4 separate regions of the Homo sapiens genome follow, and regions 1, 3 and 4 are each linked to region 2. The links come from fine-mapping of genetic effects on gene expression. A gene starts in region 2. Each other region holds a variant in brackets. All regions are shown on one strand. Distances are between the middles of the regions. Region 1 has its middle 22 kb from the start of POLE4. Region 2 holds the start of POLE4 (DNA polymerase epsilon 4, accessory subunit). Region 3 overlaps HK2 (hexokinase 2). Region 4 overlaps LINC01291 (long intergenic non-protein coding RNA 1291).

The links.
Region 1: its variant is fine-mapped to the expression of POLE4 in whole blood (TOPMed, PIP 0.97).
Region 3: its variant is fine-mapped to the expression of POLE4 in aorta (GTEx, PIP above 0.99).
Region 4: its variant is fine-mapped to the expression of POLE4 in blood mononuclear cells (TOPMed, PIP 0.96).

The regions. Positions count from the first base shown.
Region 1 is chr2:74,976,637-74,984,743 of GRCh38, forward strand. No RefSeq gene overlaps it. Among named protein-coding and RNA genes, the nearest start is that of POLE4, 22 kb to the left of the region's middle. RefSeq lists an enhancer at 7,316-7,817. The variant G/T (reference allele first, on the strand shown) is at 3,211.
Region 2 is chr2:74,953,617-74,961,723 of GRCh38, forward strand. POLE4 (DNA polymerase epsilon 4, accessory subunit) reads left to right here and starts at 5,027. Exons shown (of 4, transcript NM_019896.4): 1 at 5,027-5,276; 2 at 5,725-5,809; 3 at 6,489-6,530. The coding sequence starts at 5,064. LOC105374809 (a long non-coding RNA gene) reads right to left here and starts at 5,263. Exons shown (of 5, transcript NR_187884.1): 1 at 5,116-5,263. RefSeq lists enhancers at 4,613-5,113, 5,114-5,614 and silencers at 4,906-5,165, 5,236-5,475.
Region 3 is chr2:74,889,290-74,897,396 of GRCh38, forward strand. It overlaps HK2 (hexokinase 2), which reads left to right. Exons shown (of 18, transcript NM_000189.5): 17 at 1-189; 18 at 1,508-4,070. The coding sequence ends at 1,652. Among named protein-coding and RNA genes, the nearest start is that of LINC01291, 16 kb to the right of the region's middle. The variant C/A (reference allele first, on the strand shown) is at 4,109.
Region 4 is chr2:74,917,711-74,925,817 of GRCh38, forward strand. All of the region lies in intron 1 of LINC01291 (long intergenic non-protein coding RNA 1291), which reads left to right. LOC105374809 (a long non-coding RNA gene) reads right to left here. Exons shown (of 5, transcript NR_187884.1): 4 at 7,106-7,564; 5 at 516-2,576. Among named protein-coding and RNA genes, the nearest start is that of LINC01291, 13 kb to the left of the region's middle. The variant C/T (reference allele first, on the strand shown) is at 3,854.

The sequences.
Region 1 (8,107 bases), 23 kb after region 2:
CCAGTATATCTGACTGGGAGCACTAAAGCAGAATTTCCTGGTGGTAAAGATCATGCTTGGAGACGGGGAAAAGCAAGCTATTGAAATCTGATATTAACAGTGTGAAGGACTAATATTCAAAAAGAATCAGAGAACATTATGCTAAAAAGTAGAAAACTGTCCTATTTATTTATTTATTTATTTATTTTGAGATGGAGTCTTGCTCTGTCGCCCAGGCTGGAGTGCAGTGGGATGATCTCGGCTCACTGCAACCTCCGCCTCCTGGGTTCAAGTGATTCTCCTGCCTCAGCCTCCCAAGTACCTGGGATTACAGGCACGTGCCACCACACCCGGCTAATTTTTTATATTTTTGGTAGAGACAGGGTTTCACCATGTTGGCCAGGCTGGTCTCAAACTCCTGACCTCAAGTGATCCACCTGCCTTGGCCTCCCAAAGTGTTGGGATTACAGACATGAGCCACTGCGCTCGACCTAGGAAATTTAAAATGTGTTCCTGATTTCTTCATTGTATCTGAATCAGGGATCTGACATTCCTCATTCAAGGCTTCATATCTCTGGACATCTTAACACTTAAAGCATTTTTCTTTTTTTCCCCTAATTAGCTCAGAATGTTCTCTGTACCATCTTGTATTTTTTATACTGTTTAAAGTTTTGTGTTTCTTCTTCCTTCGTTTCCTGTAGGAAGCTAGTTTCCCTGATCAGATCTACAATATCTAGCTAACTTGGAATCTTCAAGAAAAATGGATGGTATGCTGTATGCATATCTGGATCAGGATGGTGAGGTAGATATGTCTCACAGTCTCTCTAATGCCTAATTTAATAAATGAGCAATCCCTGCCCCCCCCCCACCAAGTTCATACAAATTAGCAAAATATTTTGCCCCAGCAGTCAAGGAATGGGGCACGTTGCAGTGCCACAAACTTTAACAAGCAAATAAGGAATGACATGGAAGATTCTAGAATTGAGAGGAAGTGCATGACACAGAAAGGTTTCTAAACCCGTCTGCCAGAAGTCATAACTATAAGTCACCCAAATCTTGGAGAGTTTTTATACTCTCAGTCAGGAGGAAATTAAACCAAAGGGTTGGTAGCTTTTCCCTTTTCTGACTGTGGAGAAGTGGAAAGGGTTCCTGGGGAGAAATGGGTGAAGCAGATGGAGATGAACTCTTCAGTGGATGTGAGGGCTATAGGCTAAGCTAGAGGATGCATCTAGAGCTAAGGGGATGGAATGTAGCTCCAAGTAGGCGGAGTAAATCCTAGTACTGTGTGTTAAACCTCCAAGATGGCACACCTTCTAAGCTGAATCGTCCCTCTCCACTCACCATACCTTCAGGTCAGGTATATAGAAATACATAGAAGCGCCCTCAAACTGCAGCTCAGTTGAGAGCACAAATTGACCTCAGGTGTAGTGGAAAGTAAAGTGGCCAAGAAAATGGATGCCGGAGCCAGAATCCCTAGTTTCTTATCTGCTACTTAGGAGGCATTCGAGAAAGGAGACTCTGTGAGTCATATCCACTTCACCATTAAGAGATTAAGTTACGGCCGGGCGCGGTGGCTCACACCTGTAATCCCAGCACTTTGGGAGGCCGAGGCGGGCTGATCACGAGGTCGGGATATTGAGACCAGCCTGGCCAATATGGTGAAACCCCGTCTCTACTAAAAATACAAAAAATTAGCCGGGCGTGGTTGCGGGCGCCTGTAGTCCCAGCCACTCAGGAGGCTGAGGCAGGAGAATGGCGTGCACCCAGGAGGCGGAGCTTGCAGTGAGCCGAGATAGCGCCACTGCACTCCAGCCTGGGCGACAGAGCGAGACTCTGTGTCAAAAAAAAAAAAAAAAAAAAAAAAAAAAAAAAGATTAAGTTATTTAAACAAGTCACTTAATTTCTTTGTGCTGAAACTTTCTAATCTGTAAAATGGGAATAGTGATAATACCTCAGGATTCTTGTGAGGATTAAATGAGTTAATATATGGAAAGCTCTTAGAACAGCACCTGGCACATATTAAGTGCCATATAGTTGTGTCAGGTAATATTGTTATTATTATATCACAGCAAAATGGAAAGACTGCCCAAACATGAGCAGAGTGAAAAGAAATAGCACAACTATATAATAAGCAAGAGCAAAACCAAAAAGTGTCCAAAGGCAAGGAGCCCAGTCTAGAAGAAAGCATAGTCCAAGGTACAGAAGAAAATTCCTCCTGAGTGTTTGAATTACAGAATAGTAACATCATAAACTCAATGAAACGAGCCCAAAAGCTAACTAATACGTAAAGAAATGAAGGGGAGGTTGCAGACCTCACTTTTCATTGCCAGTCAATTTATATTCTCTAAAACGGAAACATGGTTTAAAAAAAAGCTTGAATTTCTTTTTTTTCTTTTTCTTTTTCTTTGTTTTTTTGAGACGGAGTCTCGCTCTGTCACCAGGCTGTAGTGCAGTGGCGCAATCTCAGCTCACTGCAACCTCTGCCTCCCGGGTTTAAGCGATTCTCCTGCCTCAGCCTCCCGAGTAGCTGGGATTACGGGCACACACCACTATGCCCAGCTAATTTTTGTATTTTTATTAGAGACGGCGTTTCACCATGTTGGCCAGAATGGTCTCAATCTCTTGAACTTGTGATCCACCCGCCTCGGCCTCCCGAAGTGCTGGGATTACAGGCATGAGCCACCATGCCTGACCTTAAAAATAGCTTGAATTTCTTAAATTTTTATAGTCTCTTAACCTTCAAGGAGTGTGTTCAGAAATCATTTTTCTTATGCCAAAGAAACATTCGAAGTCCAGCATAAAGTTCATTTTCACTTGGAGCTTTTCCTTCTGTTAAATTTTCTTCTAAAGGCAACTTTAGTATTTTGTAATTAAAATAGCAGGTGTTGTATTATTTTATGTAAGTATTTCTGTTTACCTGTCTGCTCATTCTACCCATCTTTCTCTCATGGAAGTATGTGTAAAGTGATTTTTACTTAATGATGGTTATTTCTAGGTGGTGCAATTTTTTTTAATCCTTTGTCTGTATTTTTTTCTGCATTGCTTAGTATATGATGCACATTGTTGTGTTGTGAGGAGGGACCAGAAGAACTAGGAGGAGATTGGAAAAACTTTGTGATACTAGGCTGGGACTAAACAGTAAATCTCTGAGCTGGCCCTGAGATTGCTTGTCCCAGTGTTGCCTATTGGTTTCCCAAGAGCGATAAAATCTCCCAATTTTCTGGAAGCCAG[G/T]TTACACTTTTTTTTCTCTGTGTTCTCTGGGACCTGGGAGGTGATAGCTCCTCTTGGACAATGATCTCTGTTCCAGTACAGGAGTTAGAGCCCCAAAGGCAACAAGGATCTCACTTGTAGAGTGCTACAATATGCCAGGCATTCTCATGATGCATTATTATTCCCACATCACAGAAGAGGAAGTAGGCTCAGAGATATTAAAAGAGTGAGCTTGAATGCTCACAAGTGCAACTTCCTCTTAAATGGTTCAGAATAAAAATTTCAGTGATAATATAGTATAGGTAATAAAGAGAGTGAGAAATTAAGTGGTGGAGCCTAGCCTGAACTGTAATTCCATGATTCCACCCCCCTCATTCTCTAGGAATGACCTGCATTCAGCCACAAATGTCTTCTAGGTTTTCTGCACAGACTGCATTGGGCCCAGATAGGTTGGAGAAAGTTGTCTTTTTGAGCCCCTAGCCTCATTGAAGAAGGCAGCATGCTGAGGCAGAAGGGGCATGGATTTGGAGTCAACAGACCTAAGTTAACTCTCACTCTGCTCTTTCCTAGCTGTTTAGCACTGGCAGGACACTCTGCTTTCTTGGTCCACTGTTTCTCTAAAACGAGGATGTAGACATGATAACGATAGAGGGTGTACTTGGAGCATCCATTGTTTTGGGCCCTGTGTTAAGCACTCGAGGTGCAAGATCTCATTTAAGTTTCCTGACAGCTCTGTGCAGAAGGTACTATTATCTCCATTGTACAAATGAGAAAACTGAGGCTTAGACCTAAGGTCACATAGGAATTAGGGTTAAAGCTGGGATTTGGATCCAGCCAATGTGATTCCAGGGCTTATTTTCAGCAAGCTACACTGCGATGGTCTCTAAGATCCCTGAAAGCTGTCAAAATGAGGTTTCCAGACACGAGTAGAACTGACTGTGTGGGTGGTGCTGTGAGGGCTTACCACAAGGCAATATTGGACCACCTCTTCAATCCTTCATTGGTGGCAGCCTGCTGGCCATACCTACTCCTTGATTTCTCTCCCCGGTTAGCAAATCACTTGAGGCCTTCAATTTAATTCCCTCTGAAGTCAGACTTCCTAAAAACAAAATCCACCCATTGTCCCAGATCTCCATTTCTCCATGGAGAGTTACAAACATACAGAACTGGATAGTGGCCAATAATTAATCATGCTAATGACATGTCCTCTTTAGAGAGTGTGTGCATGTAAGTGTAAATACCTTTGTGTGTCTTGTCCATCCTCACCTAAGCTTGTCCAAGGATGTGATGTACATGTTTTCATGTGTTAAAGACAACATTTGAAATGTTACTGCAATAAAACTAAACATCACCTATCCTATAAACTAGCAATTGCCTTAGGCACTTACTTAAGGAACATGAAAACATATATCCACTAAAAGAGTTATACATGGGCTGGGCACAGTGGCATGAACCTATAATCCCAGCACTTTGGGAGGCTGAGGCAGGAGGATCACTTGAGGCCAGGAGTTCGAGACCAGCCTGGGCAACATGGTGAAACCCCATTTCTACTAAAAATACAAAAATTAGCCAGGCATGGTGGCACTCACCTGTAATCCCAGCTACTTGGGAGAGAGCCTGTGAGGCTACAGGCAAGATGGAGTCAACCATGCCATATTTGTCTCACTGTTACAATCTTTGCAAGGGCGATTTCAAAATCAGGGTTAGGCTGTGATGATTTTAGAAATTTCCCTTGAGTTTTCTGAGAAATGACAATTACACTTTTCAACGGATTCTGGCCCAGAAGCCTCCCAGACTTTTTTCAAGCCACATACGGAGTTTAATACACAGAGTTCTCATGTATCATTCACTACAAGTTATCTGAACCTCAGAAATGTATTGTCCCTGCTTGAAAAATTTCTTGTAGTGCAAAGGAAATGTGTGAGCATCTGCTCAGAATACCATAATCAAGAGCCTTGTGCTCCGAATAATATGCTCTAGTATGCAAGCTGTGGTGGGCTCTCCCCAAGAATTTGGAACAAGAGGTAGGAAGATTGTCCCTTGAGAGTAGAACCTTAAAATAAAGCGATTCAGCCTCAGACTCAACTTGACCTGATCAAATATATCTAAAAGAAGGCATCAGTAGTAGGGGACACTGGTCAGTGATGAAAGTGAGGAAGGAGTCCCAGAGACAAATGTTGCTAGGGCCTGTTCTACACTACATGGGGTCACTAGAGCCTTAGTCAGTGCCTCTGTGTATAGTGCTATGGTCCCATTGGCAAGACAGACCTGTCAGCCTGTCCCATTCAGGTACCTTTAAACACTGCAATCATATATCCAACTTCCTTTGTTCTGAGCCCACCTTTTCCAAGCAACAGTTTGATGCTGACTTGGCTTCCCACGTAACTCTGTCTGTAGGGAGAGAAGGTGCTTGTTATGGGAAGTTGGACTATTTGCATTCACTGTGACATTGATTTTTCTTTGTGAATGAATGGGGCCATTTCTGGCTATGATTTTTCAATCCTTGTTGCTTCACTGTGGGGAGATGAGAGGATGTGGTGGCCATATTTACTTGGAATATTTCAGTCCTCGTGAGTGATTCCACTTGTAGATTGCTGACTCGCCAAGCCACGGACAAGCAAGGGATACGGGCAAGGAATATGTTCTTAGAAAATTCTATACTACCAGAAAACATATATGTTAAAAGAAAATTTCCCACAGGAAGTGATATAGGAAGGAATTGAGGCATTTTGGTCACTCATACTTGGGAGACTGCAGACTGCATTATGCCCATATTTATAAAATTCTATAAATATTTCGATGTTTCAGATGAGTTGGGGGAGGAAGAAAGAGAAAGGAAAAGCTGTAGAATCAGGAGGAGATGATCTGGCCTCATTGAGGGTGTGGGGCATCGTGGACCAGTTCCAAAATAATTGAAACACAAATGTCCAGTCTCAACACAAGACAGAGAGCACTGCCACTCACTGGCTGTTGTGCTGAATTACCTGGCAATGACAGGCACGGTTTTCTGTATTAGTGTAAAGATTAATTTGTTGTAACAAATATGCCTAGAACATACTGGCTTAAATAAAGTAGAAGTTTATTTCTCTTCCTTGTAACACTTCAACTGATCTAGACTAGCAGGGCAGCTCAGTTCCATGGGGTTATTCTGGGACCCAGGCTCTTTTCATCTTACTGCTTTGTCTTTCCTTACTATAGCACTGTCCAATAGAATTTTCTGTGATGATGGAAATGTTCTACATCCATGGTGTATAATATGACAGTCAGCAGCTACATCTGGCTATTGAGCAGTTGAAATGTGGCTAGTGTGACTGAACCAATGTGATTAGTTCAAAATAAAAATTGAACTAAAATTTTAATATTGATTTTAATTAATTTAAATGTAAATAGCTGCAGGTGGCTAGTGGTTACTGTACTTAAAAGAGCAACTCTAGATCAAAGGTGGGAGGTCTCCAAGTCTAGTTCTAGTTCATACGAAGAGGGAGGAGAGTGTTAGTAGGACAAGGTGCTTGTTTTTAAGTTGGCAATGACCCAGAAGTTGCACACATTATTTTAGTTCAAATCCCATTGACCACACTTAGTTAACTGGCCAATCCCTACTTCAAAAACAGCTAAGAAATACAGTATCTGGCCAGGAGGCCGTGTGCCCAGGTACAACTTTATTATTATGGTCAAGTGACAGATTTTAGTGGACATCCAGAAGCCTAAGCCACAGCATCTCATCTTTGCAACCCTTAACTGTATGACTGTGTAGAATGCTCATATGAGCATTTCTAAGCCTGCTTAATAATACCCATCACAATTTCATGAGGTTATTGTGGGGGTCCCATGAGATAACACTACTAAAACTCTCAGCACAGTGCTTGGCACATCATGTTCAGTCAACATTAGACATTGCTATCGTAGCTTTTCTTACCTATAATCTTGGCCTTCAGTAATGCATACTGAGCCTTCCAGACTTTCCTGTTCTGAGTGTGGGTTGCCTATGGTAACAAAAGCTCTAAATAAGTAATGAGGGCTATTTCAAAGACACATAAGGGAAACACCAGACATGTACATCAGACACTGAGCTTGGCTAATGAGAGTATGTTTCTGAGAAAAAGGTTCATTTTATGTGCTGACAATCCCAGGTTTCTCGGCCTGAGAAATACTCACTGAGATTATTAATGTTACCATGAAGGGGCTCTTTGGAGACAGCTGGAGAGCTGGACAGCCAAAGACAGACAACATGTCCCTTGCCCTCCCCACTCCCTAATAGAGTGCAGGATAGCAAAAGGAGAAAGACATGCTTTTAAAAAGATGTCTGTGCTGGTCAGCTTGTGATGTTTCTTGATGAGCCGATAATGAGCGCATCTCTACCTTATTAGAAAAGATAAATAGAGACTGACTAGGGCGCTGCAGGGCAGTGACAGCTGTAGAAATTATCTGCTCTCATCTCAGGGATGTCACACCAGTGTCACAAAACAGAGATCAACATTTAGCTTTTAAAATTACCTGAGTAAAGATAGTGAATTCACTAGAGACTGTCAATGCATTTTAAAGAAATGTGTCATTTCAGAATAAGCATCTGTGAAACTGTATTTCAAAACATTGTGTGACAGTATTTCTTATTTGTCTTACCTGCTAAAAAGAAACTTTGTGCCTTCTGTGTTTAGAAATAATAAAATACTAATCTGGTGAATGCTGGATGAAAATTTTAGGGATAATTTCTAGATTCCTCCTCTTTAAATTGTTACTATATGGCGCATGTTAAAAACGAAAGCTAAATTGGGTTTTTGTTTTCTCTTAATGTCCCTCATAATCATGAGTGACATGAAATACAGTGATTTCATGACATAGTTTGTAAAAGTGAGAAGGTCTGTAATTCAGAACAAGTATCCTAGTAGAGAAAAATGTCAGACATAACCGAAATGGGGAG
Region 2 (8,107 bases):
TTTTAACAATACACACGTGTACATACAACACATATATGATTTTTTTTTAAAAAAATTCAGAAATGAAGTGATACTGGTTCCTCCACTAACTTATCTCCTGGATAGGACACTTACTCCAGTATGGTAGATGGCAAGCTGTCTTTAATCTTTAGCTTATTAGATAAAATACTTCACAAGTTAAAAGAAAACTTTAGACAAGTTAAATTTTACAGAGTTTAACTGAGCAAAAAATGATTCTCGAATCAGGCAGCCCCCAGAACCAGAATAGATTCAGTGTGATTTTAGGCCTGCCGCATGGTAGGATAACAAGGAAAATGATGTCCAGAAAATGGAAGTGAGGTACAGAAATAGCTGGAACGGTTACAGCTTGATGTTTGCCTTATTTGAACCTGGTTTGAACCTGGTTTGAGCAGCTGGCTGCCTGTAATTGGCTGAAACTTGGCTATTTCTTACAAGAGTAAGTGACCGTTTTCACATCAAGTTACCTTGCATTTCTCTACATATGAAGAAACCTTTAGGCCAAACTTAAACTATGTAAAGAGACAGCTTTAGGCCAAACTTCACTTAACACACATCATGTTTTTTTTGCATTAATTTTCATCACGTAGCCTTTTAAAGATATTTTTAGCCTTCATTCTATTTGGACTGGAATGCGAACCGTGTGTGCGTGTGTGGCTTTTTGAGCTTTTCAACCTTCGTCTTCCTGTTTCTTCTGCCTTTTTTCCACTGAAACTCAAAAACTGTGAAACGTGATTTCCCTTTCTAACACACCTTAGTGCTGTTCAATACTTATAGTCAGGAAGTCCTGTCTGGTCTCCATAAACTCTTGGTTAGTCATAGTCAAACCAGGGAGAGAAGGACTGCACCAAGTGGTGAGACATTCAAGTGATGAGGAAAAGAAAAGAAAAGAAAAAAAAAAGAACACGAAGGGGAACAAAAAAGGAGAAAAGGAGGAAAGGCAGGGAACATATGAATGAGACAAAATTGGGAAGAAAAGGGGGTTGAAATGAGAATCCTCTGAAAGCCAAGTTGACTCAGCCCTTTCAAGAACTCTTAACTCCTCCTGCCCGTTAAAGGTGTGTGAACCAGAGCAACTCCATCTTGAATAGGAGCTGGGCAAAATGAGGCTGAGACCTACTGGGCTGCATTCCAAGATGGTTAGGGCATTCTAAGTCAGCGGATGAGATAGGAGGTTGGCACGAAATACAGGTCATAAAGACCTTGCTGATAAAACAGTTTGCAGTAAAGAAGCCAGCTAAAACTTACCACCAAAACCAAGATGGCCAGGAGAGTGACCTCTGGTCGTCCTCACTGCTACACTCCCACAAGCACCATGACAGTTTACAAATGCCAGGGCAACATCAGGAAGTTATCCTATATGGTCTTAAAAGGGGAGACATGAATAATCCACCCCTTGTTTAGCAGATAATCAAGAAATAACCACAAAAATGGGCAACCAGCAGCCCTCAGGGCTGCCCAGCCAATGGAGCAACCATTCTTTTATTCCTTTACTTTCCTAATAAACTTGCTTTCACTTTACTTTATGGACTTGCCCTGAATTCTTTCTTGTGTGAGATTCAAGAACTCTCGCTTGGGGTCTGGATCAGAACCCCTTTCCTGTAACATTTTTCTGGTGACCACGAAAGGACTCTAGCAAGGAAACCCCTGACCCAAAGGCTAACTTTGGGTAAGTGGTGGGGTCCAGTAACACCCCCACCATTGTCAACTGTCTTATGTTAATTCAGAATTTAGGTCAATTTAGTACTTAGCTACTTTGCGATTGCTGGAGTATAGCTCTTGTGAGGTGTTCTTGTGCACTGTGACACAAGAATCTGGTCATGCTTTTATGAATTTTGTGTGGAGCTTTCCATGAGTGAGAGTGTCCATAAATGTAATCTGAAAAGAACCCAGGACTGAGGCCCTAATGGCTGCTCTGGTTCAATTTTCAGCAACTCATATCCTCTTCTGCAGATTTTAATTCTGGGCCAAGACTCTTATTCTGCTATAGTGGAGTGTCTCTGTGCTAATTCAGGGTTGGGGCTCATTACATGATACCCCAAAGTATGGTACTTTGGAATGCTGAGTACTTTGAACTGAAGAAAATTGGAAAGGCCTCAGAAGCAAGGTCTTTCTGAACTTCTCCTGTCCTGTTTTCCACTGTAAGCAGTAGAAGTTATTACAGTTACTGGCAGCAAATTGCAGCAACCTCGATTCTTGTCTCCTCAGAAGATGTCGACTGAGGGGCATAAGGCAAAAGAAGAGACTGAGGCAAGTTTTAAAGCAGGAGTGAAAATTTCTTAAAAAGCTTTAGAGCAAGAACGAAAGGAAGGAAAGTACACTGAGAAGAGGCCCAAGTGGGTGACTTGAAGGACAAGTGCAAGGTTTGACCTTTTGACTTGGGTTTTTATGTGTTGGCATACTTCTGGGGTCTTGCATCCCTTCTACCCTGATTCTTCCCTTGGGGTGGGTTGTCGAAATGCACAGTAGCCTGCTAGCGCTGGGGAGGGGAGCAAGTGCAGTGTATTTATTGAAGTTGTAAGCATGCTCACCTGAGGCGTTCTTCCCTTTTTCAGTAGAATGCCCCCAGAAGGTCATATATCAGTTAAATTCCACCATTTTGCCTCTTAGTGTGCATGCGTGAGCCCGCTCGCCCAACTCCTGAGATCTCATCAGGAAGCTCCTGATCATCAGTTTCAGGGTTTTTCTATCTATAGGGAAACTGCCTTTCCCTGGCGCTGGCTATGAGCAATTATTATTTTAGAGAGGCGGTGTGACCACTGTCTGACCATCACCTGATGATCTTCTGACATTCCTGGTGGAGCGTGGGGGCCCTATCCTGCCCTGTTCGTGTCTGACTAGCTACCCACTGTAACATCACCACTCTTCGCAGTGAGTCATGGAAACCAGAATTCCTCTTTCCCAACGCAGGTCATAGAAACTAGAATTCTCCTTCCTCCAAGCAAGTCGTAAAACCTAGAAAGGTTATTTTCTGCCTTCTCCCTTGAAGACCCTCATTCCAGAAGGGTCCTGCCCTAATACCAGAAGGAATGCTACACAGGGAGGCCAAGAAGAATATGAACAGACAGGCCTTGCTGGGTTTCCCCATTCAGTCTATTACCATTAGACTATTATCATTCCCTTTTTGTCCAATCCCATTTCTTTTTCTTTTTAAGACACAGGGTCTCTCTCTGTCGCCCAGGCTGGAGTGCAGTGGTGCAATCATTGCTCACTGTAACCTTGAACTCCTGGGCTCAAGCAACTCTCCCACCTCAGCCTCCCAAGTAGCTAGGACTATAGGATCACAATACCCAGCTAATTTGTGTGTGTGTGTGTGTGTGTGTGTGTGTGTGTGTGTGTGTGTGTAGAAATGGGGTCTCCATCTGTTGCCCAGGCTGGTCTCAAACTCCTGGGCTCAGGCGGTCCTCCTGCCTTGGCTTCCCAAAGTGTTGGGATTACAAGTGTGACCCACCGTACCAGGCCTCTAATCACATTTCTACACAGCGATCCCTTCTTCATATAACCTAAGCATAAAAATAGTTTCCTCTAGGTCTCATGGTCTGCATTTTTGGACTCTCATGTCATGTAAAACTTTGATTAGACTTGTTAGGCTTTTTGTGTGTGTTATAGGAGTGTCAGCTGTGACCCTTAAAATGGGTAAAGAAAGGTTTCACACCTTTCCACTCCTACACCAGTCAGAGTTTACTACATAATTTTGGAACTGAGTGATTTCAGATGTGTTTAATTCAGCTTCATCTTGGCTTCACCACATTCTGCCCTGTGTATGCGACTCAGTAACCACTCTGCACCTCAATTTTTTCAAATAAGGTTTGAAAAAGAAGGTTATAATATTTACCTCAATAGGGTATTGTGAAAATTACAGAAGTTATGATTTACATAAATCTAAAACACTTTGAATCATGCACATAGTAAATGTTTAAAGGTGTTCACTATTATTATGATTGACTTAGATTAAACCTATTTTAAATATTAACTGTTCCTCTACGCTATCAGACCTCCAAGTGTGGTGTGGGGATTCATGGGGGTGGGAATTTTCTGGAGACCCTTTTCAGGAGTCCATGAGGCCAAAATTATTTTCTTAATACTACTATGAGGTTGCCTTTTTCATTCACATTCTCTCAAGATGTAGTAGTTTTTTAAGAGCTACCTGAGAAGTGCTAACGTTAGCAACAGAAGCAGCTAGAGAATCCAGTTCTCACATGAAATCAGACATTAGAGACTTTTCTTACTAGATTTAAAAAAAATTACTTGTCATAAAAATGTTGTTTGTTAGCTGGTAACGCATTAGTAATTTTAAATCAATATTTTAAAACTTTAATTCTAATATAGTAAGTATTGATATAACTGACAGAAACAAAAGCTCCCTGGGCTCTTTAACAATCTTTAAGACCGTAAAGGGATCTTGAGGTCAAATTTGAGAACCAAAGCTGTGATGCAACCTCTTTTTGAACAAACGTGGATGCCTCACCACCACAATTTCATCTTTTCTAGCCTCCATGACTTTTTCTTGTTTCCTCTGGCTGGGCTGAATTTCTTCATTTCTGCCTGCCAAAAGCCCTACCCCTCCTTCAAGAGCATCTATAACTGGTTATCCTTGAATTTGGTCCAGATTTCGCTGCCTCCTTGGCACCCTCTTCCACGATGCTGGGCCCTCCAGGGCCGGGCCTCCCTCGGACACGTGCCCTCGTTAGCCTTGGAATATGCACACTCTGTTTTGACGGAGACTCTCTTGCGAGCCTGGTCTAGATTTCTCCCCTCACCAGCCAGGCACAGGCACCAATGGGAGGTGCCTGGGCTCCACAGGCCCGTCGGGGCCAGAGGGTCGCCGGTAGCGTCAACCAAGTGCACGACAGCCCACGGGTGGCTAGGCGCGTGGGAAGAGCCGGAGCCCGACCCCCGCCCACCCGGTTTCCTGGCAGCGCACTGCCGCGTAGGGGCGGAGCCGCGCGCCTACACAGGGTGTGGCCTCCAGCCCGCGCGGGAAAGGGCCTGCGCCGCATGCGCGCGCACAGTCGGCGGCCGCGCGCAGCACGCTCAAGGCCGGGATGGCGGCGGCGGCGGCGGCAGGAAGCGGGACGCCCCGAGAGGAGGAGGGACCTGCTGGGGAGGCAGCGGCCTCGCAGCCCCAGGCCCCAACGAGTGTGCCTGGGGCTCGTCTCTCGAGGTTGCCTCTGGCGCGAGTGAAGGCCTTGGTGAAGGCAGATCCCGACGTGACGCTAGCGGGACAGGAAGCCATCTTCATTCTGGCACGAGCCGCGGTGCGCCTGCAGCGCGAGGGCATGCGGGAGTGGGGGAGGTGGAGTGTGGGGCGGGGCCTCGGGGCCTCCCGCGGGCGGGGCTTAGGGCGGCGTGGCCCGGGTTTTGAGATGTGGGCGTGGACCCGGAAGGCGGAGGAAAGGGGCCGGGGACCTGTGCGAGTTTTGTTAACACTCCTCCCTCTTGTTGAGGACCTGGATAGTGAGTGACTTTAATTTGTATCTCCAGGGCCTCGTACAGAACTTGTAGGAGTCTTTAGTGAATGAGGGAGAATACTGGGAAGAGGGTAGCGGAATGGATCTTCATGAAGTCCAGGACAATCTTAGCTTCCAGAACATTTTCTTGCCCCGAGCCTTTCTTCTCCCTTTCTGCCCCCACCCACAAACCGGAGCCCTCACCTCCTCAGTGTGTTAGAACCCATTACTAAAACTTTGCTTTTTTACTTCACAGGAACTGTTTGTGGAGACCATTGCAAAAGATGCCTACTGTTGCGCTCAGCAGGGAAAAAGGAAAACCCTTCAGAGGAGAGACTTGGGTAGAGTGGCACTGCAGTGTCTGGGGACAGACAAGGGAGGGCTGGGCTGGTTTCCCCTTGTGCAGGTTGAGAAGACGTCACTCTGATCTGAGAGGTGCCACAGCGTCTCTCCCCAGGATGGTTTCTGTTGGCCACAGTGCCAGGAAGCCCTACCTGTAGAGGCTGTCTGCTTGGGGTGGCGGGGCAGTGTGTGAAGGTGTCTGGGGTTGCCGTAGCGGACTGGATCCCTTCATACCTTCTGCCAAATTGCACCAGAAAAAGATATTTCTTTTTCACCTAGCAACTGGGGATTTGATTTCTGACTCTTGTCTGGCTGGGAACCCTCACCTGGGTAAGATTTCGTATACCGTATTCTCATGCGCCCTGCGTCTATTGCCACGTTCTTCTCTGACAACTTTAAGAGCAAAGCGAATAAATAATTTAGGGGTAATTTAGGAGGCCCCCAACCCCCGCGTTGAATGGTATTTGCCTATGCTTTTCTTAACTCTTCTAGGGAGACAGCTAATATATATAAGAGTTGCTGGTAGAGTAGATATGGATCTCAAGGCAGCAAGGGACGCATCTTATAAATGCCCTCATTTGCCCAAAGCCTCATGCCCTTCACTGCAGATTGTGCTGTTTTCTGACTGAGGTCAGCATGGCTGAAGTTAGTCAGGTGTCTCTTTTCCTTGTGTTTCAGATAATGCAATAGAAGCTGTGGATGAATTTGCTTTTCTGGAAGGTGAGTTCCCTCTCAGTGGGCAATCATTTCCGCCTGTCTTTTGCATGTTGATGTGAAATTCAAAATCTCATAAAACGGATGCCTGCTTCTTGTTTGTGTAGGGATAATTCTCCGCACTTGCTATTAGGATAGAAAAAAGTAACTTGCTAAACCTAGTGAGGTTCAGTTTTCTCCCTTGGGGAATTAAAATTTCTACCTGAAAATTGCTAACCATAAAGAAATAGGAGGGAATATAAAGATCCCAGTGGAGTTAGATGAATTCGAAAGTTCGATTCCTACTTTGATCGCCATCCCTAAATGTCAGGCTTGCCCCCCCTCATCATGTTACAGATCAGAAACAATTGTTAACATTTAAAGGGTCACCGCTTGTTCTTTTTTCTTCAACAATCTGTGTGAAGTGATTATTTTGCTGCAATAAGACTTGTACTTGTCTGTATTTTTAGGAGTCATGGATTAACTTGTGTACTAACTAAATTTTGTCATTAAAAAAGAAAATATTTGAAATACCTAATTTTAGCTACCTAGCCTCAGAGCGATTTCTGCTACTTAATTCTTCAGTCTGATCAGCTTACTCTTCACTACACGTATGTAGTCATGTGCTGCGTAATAACTTTTTGGTCAGCCATGGACTGCTCACATGAGGGTGGTCCCATCAGATTATAATGGAGCTGAAAAATTCCTTTTGCCCAGTGAGGTAGTGGTCATAACATCCTAATGAAATACATTACCTTTTCTATGTTTAGATTTGTTTAAATACACTTATCCTCATGTTACAGTTGCCTACAGTATTCAGTACAGTAACATGCTGTTCAGGTTTGTAACCTGACAACAATAGGTATACCCTGTAGACTAAGTGTGTAGTAGGCTATACCATCTAGCTTTGTGTAAGTACCCTCTATGGTGTTCACACAGTGGTGAAATCGCCTGAAGATGTGATGCATTTCTCAGGATGTATCCTTGTTGTTGAGCGACACATGTATTTTGATTGAATAGCTTAGCAAAAGCCATGTATCCTTATTCTCCCAGGGTGTTCTCATTACCTCCTTCAAGCCTTATTACCTTTAGAAATATCTTGATTTATTCCACTCTTTTTTACTCCTTTGTTCTGCATCTCCCTGTCAACCTAGGCCCCTGGTCCTTTTGATAGATATTTTTTAAATGTCTTATTAGATAGATAGACTACCATGGCCAACTCTATGTCTAGACTATTGAGCATTCTTTTAATTTGCAGATTTTTCTTCAGCCTCTCTTTCCACCTACTCATTTTTCTTAAAATTAACTTTTGTTAGTCCTACCTAAGGCAGGCACTCCTTGTGACAGACTTTCTGTAAGTTCTGCAGTCAAAAATGTTTGGAGCCTACTTTACCTCTTCATTTTTAATTACCAGCTTTTCAAAGACATGAGTGATATGATCAGATTTGTATTTTAAGTGCACAACATTGCTGCCCTGGGGAAAATAAACTGGAGGGTACTAGGAATAGAAGTGGGGTGGTCTTATGTAGTTTTCCACTCTAGCCTCTATCACAGCATAGTGCTTAGCTTGGATTTTTAATAAATGGCCATTTATTGAATGATTG
Region 3 (8,107 bases), 64 kb before region 2:
AGGGCTTGAGAGCACCTGTGACGACAGCATCATTGTTAAGGAGGTGTGCACTGTGGTGGCCCGGCGGGCAGCCCAGCTCTGTGGCGCAGGCATGGCCGCTGTGGTGGACAGGATACGAGAAAACCGTGGGCTGGACGCTCTCAAAGTGACAGTGGGTGTGGATGGGACCCTCTACAAGCTACATCCTCAGTGAGTGCCTGATCCCAGCCCCCCCTGCCTACCTTCTTTCTGTCTTTGTTCTTTCCCTTTTCTTTCTCTCTTTCCTTTGTTACTTTATAGTGAATTATCAGCCATTCCAAATAGTGTATATAATACATGGATTATAGTTTAAAGATTCATAATCAGAAGTAGGCCTGTGTTTCACCCCCCACCGTGGGAAGCCCCCTCCGAGCCCCTCCACAACTGTGTCATCATTCTCCCATGCCAGGGGTAAGTGTTGTGCTGAATCAGTCCCTTGCTTTTCTTTTCCACCCCCATATATGTAGGTATGCATCCATATTGTTTAGTTTTACTTATTTTTGAACTTGCCACAAATAGAATCACATGGTATCTCTTCTGTGGCTGGCTTTTCTCACACAGTGTTTGTTTTGAGACGCATCCGCATTGAAGTATACAGTTGGTAGTTCATTAATTTTCAGAGCTGTATAGCGTACCTTTGAGTATGTTGTTTTTTCTATCGTTGAGGTGATATTTAGGTTACTTCTAGATTTTGACCATTACAAACAGTGCTACTGTGAACATTCTGGCAAATGTAATGCTAGAACTCTGGAGCAAGATTTTTTTTCAACATTCTAGAGCAGGGGTTGACAGGCAACAGCCACAGGCTGTTATTGTACATATAGTTTCATGAGGATTGGGAGGGGGCAGAAGCCCAGCCACCAACCCTGGGACATGGCATCCTCAGCTTTGTAGATGGGGAGGGTGTCCTGACCCTGCTGTATTGGGGCAGATCACAACTCTCTCTTTCTCTGGTCCATATAGGAAGGATCTGTGATCACTGTGATATCCTAGCAGTGACTCTGTAAGTCTGCTTCTTTTGCCTCCGATGACATTTTGGAGCACATGTGGCTCTGATATGAGGCTATGCGCCAGGAAAATAGAAAATCACATTCATGAGTCCTGGTCCTGGTCTCCCCCTCCAGAGTTGTGCTCCTCTGTTAGGCACACTTGTGGCTTCCATGGTTGTTGAACTTCTCTTTTACTGACTATTAGTTTTAAGAACACAGTTTGCCAGGATCTCAGACGTTTGTCCCAGAATTGAATCCTAGCTCTCCTAATGGCTGATATGATGTGGAAATTGGGCATAGTACTAGTGTCTCCAAGCCACGGTTTTCTGGTACTTAATAATATATAGTAAATGTTTAATACATTATAGCTGTCATCCTTCTCCTCTTCTTAATTATTTCTGTGTTTCCAGCATCGCTTCTTAGCTTTCATTTCTAAGTGCAAATACAAACCAATCATGACTAAGATGGTTTTTCCTGTGTCTTCCTCCCACCTTTTCCAGCTTTGCCAAAGTCATGCATGAGACAGTGAAGGACCTGGCTCCGAAATGTGATGTGTCTTTCCTGCAGTCAGAGGATGGCAGCGGGAAGGGGGCGGCGCTCATCACTGCTGTGGCCTGCCGCATCCGTGAGGCTGGACAGCGATAGAACCCCTGAAATCGGAAGGGACTTCCTCTTTCTCTCCTTCTTCCCTGTTTTAAATTATAAGATGTCATCCCCTTGTGTCAGAGACAGACCCCTTGGCTTTTGCTTGGCAGAGAGGACCCCACTGGACTGGGTTTTGTCTCTGCATCTCATTGTAGAGCTTGGTGGCTGAGCTTGGCCCTATTAAGATAAATAGAGTTCCAAATAAGGATTTGTTCACATGCATCATAACCATTCCCATTGGTTCTCCTAAAACATGAAAATTATCTCCCTTAGTAATCCCCCTTGCCAAATTCCATGTCCCTGTATAATTCTACAGGATGGGGACACTAATGAAGATACGGTTGCTTCACCTTGGAGCCTGAACATGACATTTCTAAGTGGGGTGCATCCCCCAGCACTGATGTTGTTACTGATTCTCCTGTCAGAGATCTGGGAGGTCTCCACTGAGGATGTGAGCCTGATTATCCTATAGGCAGACGTGGGGAGGGTGGAGGGGTGACAGTGGAGGAAAATCCATGGATATCCACGCAGCAGCCCCTCTTTAACCTCATCTACAAGCATTTGCCCTGTGGATTCCAGCATTTGCCATTCCTGGAATCAAGGAATCCTGAGTCTGGGCAATGAAACCAAAGCCAGGAGTTGACGCATCCTGCAGTTGGGCCAGCTGTCGCATCTCAGCGGGGCGCACATGTTATCCACAAGCAATGGACCTTTGGGGAAGGGGGAGTTTTTAGTTTGTTTTACAAATTTTTCCTGCAAAAGTGGAATCACTGTATTTTCATTTTAATTTATATTTGAAATTTTATTTAGTTCTTGAGTAGATCTGCTTCTTCATCTTGACATGTAATGAATGGTCAGTTGTACGTAATGTATTTATATGTTAATTTGTTATGTATATAGATGTGCAAGTCTTGTCAGAATTGGCCTCAGTGTAGTTAAAGGGCAGAAGGGGAAGATACTGACTAGTCATAGAAATACCTCATTCGCCTGTGGGAAGAGAAGGGAAGCCTCTTCAGGGTGAGTGAATGGCAAAGCGGTTGCTTCTGGCTCCTCCTTCCCCTGTGGTCTTGGAAGTGTGTGGAAGGCAGGGACAGAGATGGAGGCCGAGCCAATAGACTGAAGAGACCACAGCAATTGGCTCCTCCATCTAGAGATTTTCTTGGCAGTATTCCATGGGATGTTAAGCAAAGGAAACCAAAGGAATCGTTTCAAATGGACTCATGGCTTAGAAATCTTTATTCTTAGGGCAGTCAGTAGTATTCTAAAGCTTTCTGACAAGATAAAGGAAGTCACCAAAATTTCTTTTTTTAAATTGTATCTAATCCTCAACAACAAACCAAAACAGAACAATTAAACAGCCAAATAAAACCTCAGGGACAACATTTTTGGTGTATTTGAGCCCTCCCAGCAAGTTTCACCTTGGGTTTGTATTTTAAATGTTTTACAAGAATTGTCCATGTGCTTCCCTAGGCTGAGCTGGCATTGGTCTGCTGACCTGTTTTTGTGTTTTTCTTTTTTTTATACACAACATTTATTTCAAACTATTGGGAGGGATGAGAGTGGCTTAAAAACTTCCATCCCTACTTTTCAAGAGTGCAGTTGATTCTGAATCTGAAAGCCCGCCTCTGTCCTAAAATACAAACAAGCACAGACATTAAACCTGGATACTATATGATAAAGAGGGATGTAACTATTGAATTGGATACAAGGATCAGAATGGAAAGAAACTCACGATGAAATTGAACCTGGTTTTTGTATATTTATCAAACTTGTGCTGAGAATAGTGTCTGATTATACGACTTTTAAGCAAAGTTGGGTGTAATTAGGTGAAAACAGCCCAGGTCCTCCCGGGAGCACAGAGGGGCTAGGGGCTGGTCCTTCTCGTTTGCTCTAGTCTTGCTTTGCTGTCTGGTGTAGCTCCTCTGCTGCTCCCATCTGCACTAATTGACCCAAAACGTGGGTATTTCCTGCTACACAAAAGCCAAAAGGTTTCATGTAGATTTTAGTTCACTAAAGGGTGCCCACAAAATAGAGATTAATTTTAACTTAAATTTTAAGCTTGAAGATTAGGTACTATCTGTGAAGTTACACTTTTTTTTTTTTTTTTAAAGGTAGAGATGTGTGTGTGTGTAGGTATTAAAGATGTGTTGTTGGTTTCCAAAAAGGAACACTGGAAAATAAATTTTGAATGTTTATGTTCTCAGAATCAGGTTGACAGTCCCTTGCTGACATGGCTTTGCTTTGTGTAAATACAGTGGATCTCAATCTTCGGGGTGTGATGAATAGCGAATCATCTCAAATCCTTGAGCACTCAGTCTAGTGAAGATGTTGTCATTATGTACAATACATAACTAGTTTAATTAACTATGTGATGTTAACTATTATTAATAAATTTTAACATTTTCCAAAATAATCAAATGTGATTCATGAGTGTTTTTAAGAGAGTAGTCATCTTC[C/A]GGTCGTATCAGTACTTCCTGGCCAGCCCGATGAGTAATTTATGGGTGTCTTGATTTTGAGTGTGTGTGTTTGAGAGGCATGTGGCTTTTCCAGAAACTCAGTCCCAGTGGAATTAGAAGGCAGCTTTTCCTGGACTGCCTTGGACCCCTTAGATTTCAAGCCACTGAAGAGCTATGGCTAGTCCTGCGGTCTACTGTTTAAATAGCTTGGCTGAAATTAGCACCACCCTGAGGGCCTCTGGCTGGTCTTGGTTGGCAAATGTGATTCATATTCAGGATATATAGCTCTCGTGAACATCCAAAAAGCACTTGCCTCTGTCCTCTCCCTACCAAGCTTTTCCTTCTCCCCAGTAAGCAGAACACAGGTCTGGGGAGTAAATTCATCAAAAGTCCCTAGTGATACCCATTAACATTCACATGGCCCTGTTTGACAATAACCGAGGGAAGAAGATGACCATGGCTAAGAGGATAATGGAGATAGCCAATGGGTGAGGGAAAGTTTAAAATTAGACCCTATTTTTTCTGATATCAAACTGGTGAGATTATGGGAGCATTCTCCTACACTGTTGGTGGAAGTATGATTGGTATAGCCCTTATGTGGGGAAAACAGGCAATATGCCTCACAGCAGGTTTTGTGTAATTTTCTAGAAATTTGTGCTAAGGAAATACATATAGTTGAGGACTAAGATTTAACTTTAAGGATATTGACTATCATATGGCTTATAATAGCTAAAGAGAGAAACCGTCTCTATATAATAGACCCACTCACCCTTTATCAGGGTACAGTCAGGAAAACAATCCATTCCAGTCATTGTAAACATTTTAATACTGTGACTTGGTTGCATAGGGTGACGGCAATGCTGAGAAGCCAAGCAGTACAGAGAAGCAACCCAGGGATTAGCAACATCAAGAAAAGTAGCTTCAATCCCACTGGCTGGATCCGAGTCCCAAAGCTGGGGTAAGGGGGCAAGTACTGGGACTGTGGAATGGGGTGGGAGATGAAGAAATTCTCTGCCTTCCTCCCGCCCACTCATTTTCTGCAGTGTTTCCATTGGTTGAACCTAGCAGGAAGTGTGTTGGCACAGGGAGCCTGGGAAATGGAGCCTCCTGTGATATGGCGCAATTAGGAAAGTAACCGGCATGCGACTTATAAAACCACTATGTGGTTTTATAGAATATTATTGAGCAGGGTTATTACTAAATATTCTCCATTTAGTAATATAGAAAACATTGCCAGTATGCTGCTTCATGCCAAAGAATATTTCAGAACAGTGTATTGTGATCCTGTTTTTGTTAAAAAAAATACTTGTTAAAAATTACGATATATGACATAAGAGTTGTAATGGGTTTCCCTGAGTGCCTCCTCTGCCTTGCTGAATTCTGGTAGAGGCCTCAGCCCCCTTTCTCAGCAGCTCTCCCTCAAATGACTCACCCCTCTGGGAGTCTGCATGCTGCAGTTCAGCTTGGTGGTGTTCACCAGCCTTAGCCAGGCTGCTACTCAGTGCAGTTTTGGTGCCACCTACCCTCCCTAGGCCACTGCTGCCCCCACTTCACAGCCTCAGGGAAGATCTGCACTCCCATTTCCCACTGGGGGCTCAAAGTGGACATAGACACATTCTCCACAGACCATAATACTGGCAAAACATTCAGAAGATACTTTGTGAGATGGTTTGGCTCTCTCTCCCTACCCATATCTCATGTCACATATCTCATAATTCACAGTGTTGGAGGAGGGGTCTGGTGAGGGGGGAGGTGATTGAATCATGGGGACGGACTTCCCCCTTGCTGTTCTCATGATACAGTTCTTAGGAGATCTGGTTGTTTGAAACTATATAGCACCTCCCCCTTCTCTCTCTTCCTCTTGTTGGCCATGTGAAGATGTGCATGCTTCCACTTACCTTCTGCCATGATTGTAAGTTTCCTGAGGCCTCCCCAGCCATGCTTCCTGTGCATCTTGCAGAACGATTAGTCAATTAAACCTCTTTTCTTATAAATTACCCAATCTCAGGCAGTTCTTTGTAGCAATGGAAGGATGGATAAACACACTTTTTTTAGTGTATAATTTAACGCAGGTATTTGCACTAGAATGCCCTCCAAGCCCTGGATTCCCCATGCTCATGGCTTCGCTTGGGCTGCCTCCCTGCCCAACTCCCACCTGCTCTGTGGGATTCCTCACCACAGGAGAAAGCCATGTCCTTTAATGGGACTCAGAAAACGATATTCCAAAATAATGGTCCTTTGACATGCTGAATAAAGAGGCAACCTCAAGGTCTTTATATACTCCTGCCCCACCCTCAACCCCCTGTTTCTCCCAAAGCAAAGGATAAGGCTTTTCTCTGATATTCCCTGATCTGTGTAAAGACTGAACCCCCTCCTCACAAGGAGAACACAACTGCCTTCTGTCCTTTCCCTGAAATCTCTTAAGGACCGGACCCACCTAGAAGAACACAATTGTCCTCTATCCTCTCTCTGAAATTTTATTATCTGTTGCAGAAAGGAAGACTGAGGAATGCAACCACAGCTGGATGGATTTTTTCACAAGATAATGTTTGTGGATTCCAGCATTTCATTCAAATTCCAAAGAGAATCATTTACAAGTTAATTTCTGTCTACCTGGCACATTCATTCTCTCTAATAAACATTTCCGCCCCTTGAAAAAGTCATCACATTTCCCCTATCTCTCCTTCCCCTATGAAGAAGGGTTTATAAGCATCTGGACTTCACTACATTATTGGGTAATCATTCTGTGATTCTTCCATGTTATGTATGTTAAAATAAATTTGTACACAAAATAAAACTGCAATAGGAGAACAATCCTATTAATCTGCCTTTTGTCAGTTCATCTTCAGAAAACCTTCAGAGGGTGGAGGGGGAAGGTTTCTCTCTTTGCTTCTGCAGATTTGAGGCTGTGAGCAGGATAAACCACATCTAGTCTGCTCTTCTGGAAACCACAGTCAAGGGAATCTAGGACCTGACAAACTGGCAAAAAGGGTAAGAATTTCTCACCAGTCAGATTCCCAGGTGTCTGTCTATGGAATCCAATAGAGCAGATGGTAAAAATCACTGTCTCTGTTTCCTTTCCAAATTCAGGTTAGTGGGGGAGAAAAGCATTTGTACAGACTTGCCTTAGGTTTAGTGACCATGGTATATTTTTATCATGGGGGCTGCATTTTTTGCACCCATTTAAAAAATGCCCCATGTTATTGTAAATCTAGAAAGTTACCTTTGGGACTTTCCATAAAGAAGGCTTATTGGTTTGAGTCACTTATGGGATAAATAAATCAGCCGTATTTAAACAACTGTTTTGCCAGTTTGTCAAGTCCTGGGTTCCCATGACTGTCTTCTTAGTACCCATGAAAAGACACAAAAGAAATATAGCCTCAGAGACTTATTTGACAAGAATAAAAGAAAAACTTTGTTTTAAACCTAATATTAGGTTTAAAATATTAGGTTTAAAACAAAGTTAATATCCTTCAAATGCTCACACTGTCTGCTTTGGATTTTATAAGCAACGCACTCTAGCCTGTGGTCTAGTGGTTAGAATTCAGTGTTTTCAGTGCTCTAGTCCAGGTTCAATTCCTGGTCAGGGAACCAGTTCTTTGGAAATAAAAGTCCTTTGACTCAGTAGGGGGAAAAAAAAGCATTTATGAGAGTTTAAATTACTTATCTTGAATTTACATTTCTATGACTCTTGACTTTTGGAGGTATCCAGTCATTTGTAATCCTTTCTTCCCTCATGAACAGCATCAGGTTTCCTGCTTCTATTTTCCATCCGTTGGGTCACATGTGTTGTTGGGTCTTTGATGCAGGTGACCAGCTGAGAGGTTGGGACCCTAGAGAATATGTCCAGATGGAGGTGTGAGTTGCACCCCATTTGCAACTGGTGAAACTTTCCTTTTTTTAAGTTGTCGTTGGGAGTAGTCTGGATCTTGGAAATGTTGCAGCTTTTCACTCCCGTTTTGGAGACCTTGGTTAAAGGCATAAAGGGCTTCATGGTTT
Region 4 (8,107 bases), 36 kb before region 2:
ACTGGAAGATTAGAGTTTTGATTTATTGAGATGGAAAAGGCTGTGGGAGCAAATGGGAGCAAAAGGTTTGAAGGGGGAGGATTAGGAATTTGCTTTTGGACATGCTACGTTTGAACGCATTAGGCATCCACGTGCAGATATTGAGTCAGCAGTTGGGGATGTATGGGTCTGAAGTTCAGAGGAGAGTTCAGGCTGGAAAGAATATATTCGGAGTTGTAAACGTGAGGCCAGGCAGGATCACGAGGAAGTGAGTGTCAGTAGAGAAGAATGTGCATAGCCTTAGGCACTTGAGTGAATAGGCTCAACTGTGTGGAAGTCTGCTGACAGGTCATCTAAGATGAGGACTCTCAACTGACCGTTGGATTTGCAATGTGGACCTGAAGAGTAATTGTGGTGAAGTTGTGAGAATGAAACTGAAGTGGGTTCAAGAAAGAACGAGAGGAGAGAAAGTGGAGTTTGAGTATAAATAACTCTTTTGGAGAGGATTGGTGTAATTGAATGGCAGGGGTATGAGATTTGAGGTCAAGGAAATATTTTTATTATTTTTTACGATGAGAGAAATTGTAGTACACATGTATATTTATGGGAATGACTCAGTAGAAAGACCAAAAATTTCATATGTGAGAGAAGGACCAATTGATGAAGCGATGTTCTTGCGTGGGCGCGAGGATGGGATCGAGTGCACAGCGGAAGGTGGCACTTAGGAACACGCAGCACTCGTCCATGCCAGCAGGAGGCAAGGCAGAATGGTGAGTACAGGCACACGTGTACTGATGTGGTGCTGGGAGTGTGGGTAGAATAGGCGGTTGTTCTGGATGATGGATACGGTTTTTCTCAGCTCTTAAAAATGTATTATTTCAAAATCAAACTTTTCATCATAATCTTGTCTTTAGCTCTTTCCTATTCTTCATCTTGCAGATCTAGATAGTCATTAGGCTCTGTTGATTTCACCTACTGAGTGGGTCTTGTCTGTAATGCCCATCTGGCTCCTTCAGCTCAGTGCGATGGAAGGGCTCTGCTCTGTAGCGACTAGAATTTAAAGCTAGCTGGAATTTATCAGGCATTTGATGGCTACCTGTTTAGGGGCCCTACCAGGGAAGTATTCCAATAAAATTGGGATAATAATATGCTTACCCCATAGGCCCATTTAGAGAATTAAGATAAATATCAGGTGCTAAGCGCTCAGCATTTCCCTGGCACATAGGAGGTTGAGCTGTTGGTATCTTCATCCACCATCACTGCTGTACTTCATGGTGAGCTTTCTATAGAGCAGGTCTCTGCTTTAGAACCTCTGACTCTGCCAGCTACCTGGATCAAATTTGAACTTTTCACCTGTTAAACCAAGGCTTTCACGATCTGGCCCCAAACTCCCTTTTTTGCCCCATGTCCCAGCACTTCTCTTTCATGTTCCTTCTATTTCAGACACAGAACTAGCCCTTCTTCAACCTATATCCTTTCTTTTCAGTTCCACGATTTTACGGAAGATATCTTGTCACTAAGCCTGGCAAAATCCTGCCCATTCTTTAAGATTTAATATATATCACGTTTTCCTGCGGTACTTCCTGGACTTCCCTTCGGACGCCTCTGGTCCCCAGTCTGGCTCCTTCTTAGGCCTGTCCCGTAATTCTAAGCTTGTCTGGCTGTCCTTCCACTATGAGCTCTTTGGGAGCAGGATCTCTGTTTGGTTCCATTCTTTTTGGTGCCTTGAACAGTACCTGGCACCAATAAACACCTTAAGGAATGACCACATTCCTTATTCCCTCCTTTGTATCCACCTCTTTCCTAGCCCTTAGTGTTGCACATTGTTGATGGCCTGTCTTCCCCATCACGCTATTAATGCCCTGGGAAACAAGACATTATCTTTATTTCTCCCCACGTCGCCAGAGCCTAACACACAGTGGCTCCATCTCCGCTCACTGCAACTTCCGCCTCTCGGGTTCAAGCGATTCTTGTGCCTCAGCCTCATCATGAGTAGCTGGGATTACAGGTGTGCGCCACCGTGCCCGGCTAATTTTTGTATTTTTAGTAGAGATGGGGTTTCGCCATGTTGGCCAGGCTGGTCTCCAACTCCTGACCTCAAGTGATCCGCCCGTCTCGGTCTCCCAAAGTGCTGGGATTACAGGCTTGAACCATCGCTCCAGGCCTCGATAAATGTTTAATGAATAAAACGATGAAAGGACCCGTCGCCTCCTAAATGCAGATCTCGAGGGAGCCTCCAGGTGGCGCTCGCCGCTCGGAGAAGCAGGGAGTCGGTGCGCCGCAGCTCCGGCAGGCGTCTGGGAGGTGGTCGCCTCCTCACCTGCCCAGGCGGCCGTCCCCCGGGAGCGGGTGGCGGTGACCTCAGGACTGACGCACTGCCTCCTCCGGGCGGGTGCGCAGCCTGCGTCAGGGGCGCTGTTCTCCCTGTGCTCTTGGACCCCGCAGTTGTTTTAGGAACATTCACTGGAGAGCGAGAAGGGGGCCGCCTTCCGGTGCCCGGTGGGCAACACCTAAGCCGCGGTGTTTACTGGTGAGGGAGTCGGCTGTCTGCTGGCGGCTGTGACAGCTGCAACACGCCACACAAAGATGTTATTTACCTGTCATATTAATGATAGTGTTAGCAAGTGCGTGGCACGTCCAGTACTTTTTTTTTTTTTTGAGACGGAGTCTCGTTCTGTCGCCCAGGCTGGAGTGCAATGGCGCGATCTGGGTTGACAGCAACCCCCGCCTCCCGGGTTCAAGCGATTCTCCTGCCTCAGCCTCTCGAGTAGCTGGGATTACAGGAGCCCATGACGAAGGCCGGCTAATTTTTTGTATTTTTAGTAGAGACGGGGTTTCACCGTGTTGGCCAGGATGGTCTGGATCACCTGACCTAGTGATCCTCCCGCCCCCGCCTCCTAAAGTGCTGTCCAGCACTATTCTAACTGCTATGTACACATTTACTCAAAGGTACATAAGATAATACAAAATAAAAATTTCCATTTTATAATGAGGAAACATAGGGGCAGAGGTTGGATAACTTGGCCGAGATGGTCCATTTAGCAGTAGCAGAGGCATGGTTAGAACCCAGGCGGTCTATACCAGAGCTGGCAGATGCCCCTTTTATGCACCCCTGCCTCCCTCTCAATGTCCAGCAGGGCTACCATCCGTGTTCCAGCTGGCCCGCGCTCAGCCAGCCAGACACCATTTATTAAGCACTTACTATGTGCCAAACACCTTGCTTAGTGTTGGGGATGAGCAGGTAAAGGGGAGAAAGTGTCTCCCTTTCAGAAGCCTCCAGGCTATCAAGGGAGAAAAAAGTGTTGTGGGTGAAAAAGGTGTTGTGGGGGATGGTTGTGCCAAACGGTAATGATGGACAGAGTAACAATGGGCACCCATGGGAGGAGCCGTGGCAAAGGAGATGCTGGCCTTCCCAGACAGCCCACCTGGCCCTTTTCTTGTGTGCCGCTCTTGTTATGGGTTTTTCTGGGGGAGGCATGGGGACACTGGTGCTCTGGCCTCGGTTCTGAGAGCCTGTCCAGGCCCGAGTCCCTCTAGGGCTTGGGCACACCCCACTCCAGTCTTGTCCTTGAATCCCTGCACAGTGGCTGGGACCCTTGTCCTTAGTGCCAACTTCTCTGGTGCTGCCTGCCTGCCTAAATTTCTGAATATCAGGGACTGTGCTCCACTTGCTGCTTGGACACTGCTCCCATCCTCCCACCGGTTCCCATCCTCAGCCTGGTCCCATGATCAACAGCCACAGCTTGCCTGATCTTCCCCTAAACTCTGGTTTTTGTGGCCCCAGACTAGCCAGCTCCCTGTCCTTCTGGTGCAATCACACTTCTACCTCTGCTCCAACTAGTGGTGTCTATGTGTAAGACCCCCAGATCCCAGA[C/T]TCTTTCCTTTTCCTCTGATACATCAGTCCCCTGCTGACTCCACCCATCCTAGATGCCTTCTCGGTTGATCACTTGAACCACTTTCTTGCTGGCCCCTCAATTTTCTGTCTCCTTGTAAACACTTGCTCTAGAAACCCCCTCCTTTCTCCACTTCTTCACCTGGGGTGCTCAGGGATGCTGAGCTGGAATTCCCAGAGCTGGCAGGTTGGTGCTGGGCAGTTTTGGAAACATGATTTTCAGGCCCCAGTGTAAAAACATGTGGGGCCAGGCACAGTGACTCACATCTATAATCCCAGCACTTTGAGAGGCAACTCAGGAAGACCACTTGAGACCATGAGTTTGAGACCAGCCTGGGCAACATAGCCAGACCCTGTCTCTGCCAAAAATTAAAAAAAAATTAGCCAGACATGGTGGTGCGTGCCTGTAGCCCCAGCTACTAGGGAGGCTGGGGTGGGAGGATGGCTTGAGCCCAAAAGGTTGAGGTTGCAGTGAGCTATGATTGCATCACTGCACTCTCACCTGGGTGACAGAGTGAAACCCTGTCCGTAAACAACATACTTTTTATTGTCTGTAAAAAACAAACAAACAAATAAATAAAATAAACACATGGGGCCCTTGTTCAAAAATTTTAAGAATTTCAAGATGACAACAGTAGACAGCAGTTAAACCAAGTTCAGGGCCCTTCTACTCATGGAGCCTGTGTGACTGCATGGGTTATAGCCCCCTGAAGTGCTGGGCCAATGCCCCCACCTTCTCAGAGCTTCCAGGGCTATCTGATTACTCTGAAGTCTCAGACCTGTGGTCTCTCCTGTCTTCTCAAGTGGCCTGCCACCACGGTTGTCCTTAGCTATCCCATCCCATCCCATCCCATCCCATCCCATCCCATCCCATCCCAGTCTCAGACAACATTCCCTGCAGCCTCACTTGCATTCACCCAGGCTTTCTAGAGTGGAGGAGAAAGCCTGGAGTTCCCAACAGTGGGAAAGCTACCTGGACCAGGTGGTGTGGTTGACAATGACTGAGAATCTGTCTTCAGGGATCCCTGCAGAGGCTGGTGTCCTCAACTGTACAGGGATTGGATCTAGATGTCAAGGGAGAAGACGGAAGGTAGAGAAGGAACCAACAAGCAGGCTCCTTCCCATTCTGACTAACTGGGCACTTTCCACAACTTCCTGAATCTAATTCTCTAGGGGCCTTTTATTTTTCCTGTTTCATAATTGTAGAGATGAGGAAACAGGCTCAAAAAGGTTAAGCAGCTTGCGAGCCCACACAGCTAGTAACTGGTGGCAGCAGGCCTTAAGGCTAGGTTGGTGTGAGGGCAAAATCCTACCCTTTCCTCCTTGAATCTCGCTTTCCTAAGGGGCAGAGCTAGGCCTTGACAGTTATTCCCTAATCAAATCTAACTTCCTTTCCTGCCCCCTCTCCCCTGCCACCATCACAATGATTGCCTCATGAGGAAATTTAATCTCATCCTCAGAACCTGCCAAGTTGAGCACTTCTGCTCGCTGATGATAAAAAGAATACCCAACTCTCAGGAAGAAAAAGTCATTTGGCTGTTCTCTGACAGTCCCTCCTCATCTGAACCTCACCTTTCCAGAGTGGGAGAGAATTTTGTCCCTCTCTGCTCCCCACTTGCCCCTGGCCCCGGTTATCTCTGGGCATCTCTCTTTTTCTTCTCTTTTCCTTTTCTTTCCTTTTTTTTTTTTTTTTTTTTTTTTTGGAGACGGAGTCTTGCCCTGTTACCCAGGCTGGAGTGCAAAGGCATGATCTCTGCTTATTGCAACCTTTGCCTCCCGGGTTCAAACGATTCTCCTGCCTCAGCCTCCCAAGTAGCTGGGATTACAGGCACCTGCCAGTTAATTTTTGTATTTTTAGTAGAGATGGGGTTTCACCATGTTGGCCAGGCTGGTCTCAAACTCCTGACCTTGTGATCGGCCTGCCTCGGTCTCCCAAAGTATTGGGATTACAGGCATGAGCCACTGTGCCCAGCCATCTCTCACCCTTTTGTCCCCCATTTGAAACTTTGCCACCAGCCTGGTCCTGGCCACAAGCAGGGTCACATGTTTTCCTGTCTTACTTCATGCCCCTTTCTTTTTTTGTTGAGATGGAGTCTCGCTCTGTCATCCAGGCTGGAGTGCAGTGGTGTGATCTCGGCTCACTGCAACCTCCACCTCCCGGGTTCAAGTGATTCTCCTGCCTCAGCCTCCTGAGTAGCTGGGACTACAGGCACCCACCACCACACCCAGCTAATTTCCATATTTTTAGTAGAGACGAGGTTTCACCATGTTGCCCAAGCTGGTCTTGAACTACTGACCTCAAGCAATCTGCCCTCCTCAGCCTCCCAAAGTGCTGGGATTAGAGGCGTGAGCCACCATGCCCGATCACCCCTTGCTTTTTGATTGTGCTTCAGCCAGCGCCCCTCCCGAGGCAGGTAAAAGTGGTATTTTTTTTTAAATTTTATTATTATTATACTTTAAGTTTTATGGTAAAAGTGGTATTTAGGAGACTCTTGGAAATGAGATCACTGACCAGATACTTGATAATGTTAGGAATTTGTGTTATCTAGATGTGGTGAAGGCACTGAGGTTATATATATATTTAAAGGAATCAGTTTCTGAGGTATAGCTCAAAATATTAATTGACGAAACCAATCCCAAACCAAATATTTGGGATTTGCCTCAAAATAATATCAGAGGGGAGAAATAAGTAGGGTTTTTGGTTAAAACAAGATTGACTATAAATTAATTGATGGTTGCTGAACCTTGGTGCTGGGTACATGAGGGTTCATTGTGCTATTTAACCTACTTTTGCATTTGTCTGAATTTCTCCATGATAAAAAGTTTTTTTTAAATGTTAGGCATTAAAATGAAAGACAGTAAACTCAAGAGCTCTGTGTATGTAAGAGTGAGAATGGGGTGGCAGAACTGGGAAGGGGCCTAAAGTAGGTGAGTGCAACGAGGCAAAGTACAGCACATTTCTGCTTTCCTGGAATAAGTCTGTAAGCAGCCACAGCTCTCCCAACCCTGCCCCAGGCCCGCTGTCCTCAGCTATGACTAGCAGGAGTCCAGGGTCCACTGCTGGGAGCCCACCTCCTCCATCATGTCTTGCTGGAATCCCGGGGGCTTATGCAGGCCTGAATGGGGCTCCCTGAGACTTCTGTCTAAGGAAGCCATGCACTGGCCAGCTTCATGGCTGTGGCTGCTCTTTCCCTCTCTGACACGGGATGCTTTTGCTGGGTGATGGCCCCTTACCTTGGCTTCTGCTGTTTTCTTTTCCAGCAAAGGGTGCTTCTCTGGGTGGGGCTTCAGAAAGAGGCTGGCCCCATAGTGCCTCTCCCTTCTAGGATCCGCTCTGCCCCGGTAGTCTCTTTTATTCTCTCAGGGTGCAACCCTGGGCTGTGGTTTTAGGTGCCCTGCCCTGGTCTTGGTGGGGCTGGCCCCGCCCCATAGGACAAGAAGTTCATGGGCCTTGTCTGTGTGCCACCCAGGGCCAGTCCTCCTTTTGGTGCATGGTTCGTAACCCAGGGCCCAGAATTCCCTGCTCAAATGTCCCAGCCTCTTCCAGGGCTGTGTGAACCTCTTCCCATCTGTCCCGTCTGTGGTGAGGTCACTGAGGCCTCAGGGATAGCTAAGGGGTGGCTCTTATTAGCGGCCTTTACACAGAGTTTGGGCATGCGGGCTGAAGTGTTTGTTCAGTGCCTGCTGGTGGACCTGAGAGGGGAAGAGAAGGTGGGGTGCTGACCAACTGCCTTCATTTATACTTTTGCCAATATTAGAGGCAGATGTGGGTCTGGGGTCTATTTAGGAAAGGGAAAAATGTGATTCCTTTTTCCAACTGTGTCCCCCCTTTCCCTAACCTTCCTTTCTTGTAGGGTGGATTAACAGTTTTTTTTTGGCAGAAAAACACACCAACCAACAAATGAACAAAAATCAACACCCCAAGCTATGCATACAAAACAACAGGCCCAACCCACACACTGAGAAATCGGACACTCAGCAGGCCACTCTGCCAACATGCTTTGAAAGGATACTCTTAAGAGGTTTTGGAGGTAGGGTTAACCTCCGAAGGGGACAATAGGGACTGATGTTTGCCTCAGGCTGGTAGGGACAAAGGGCATTGCAGAGGAGAAGACAATGGAAGTGAGCCTTGTGGGCTTATTTGGTGGCTGGCAGCTTGAAGGTTTCTCCCTCTAGGGCAAAGGTTTCCAAGCTATTGTTCACTGAAGAGCCTCCTCTTCATACATAAGCTTACCT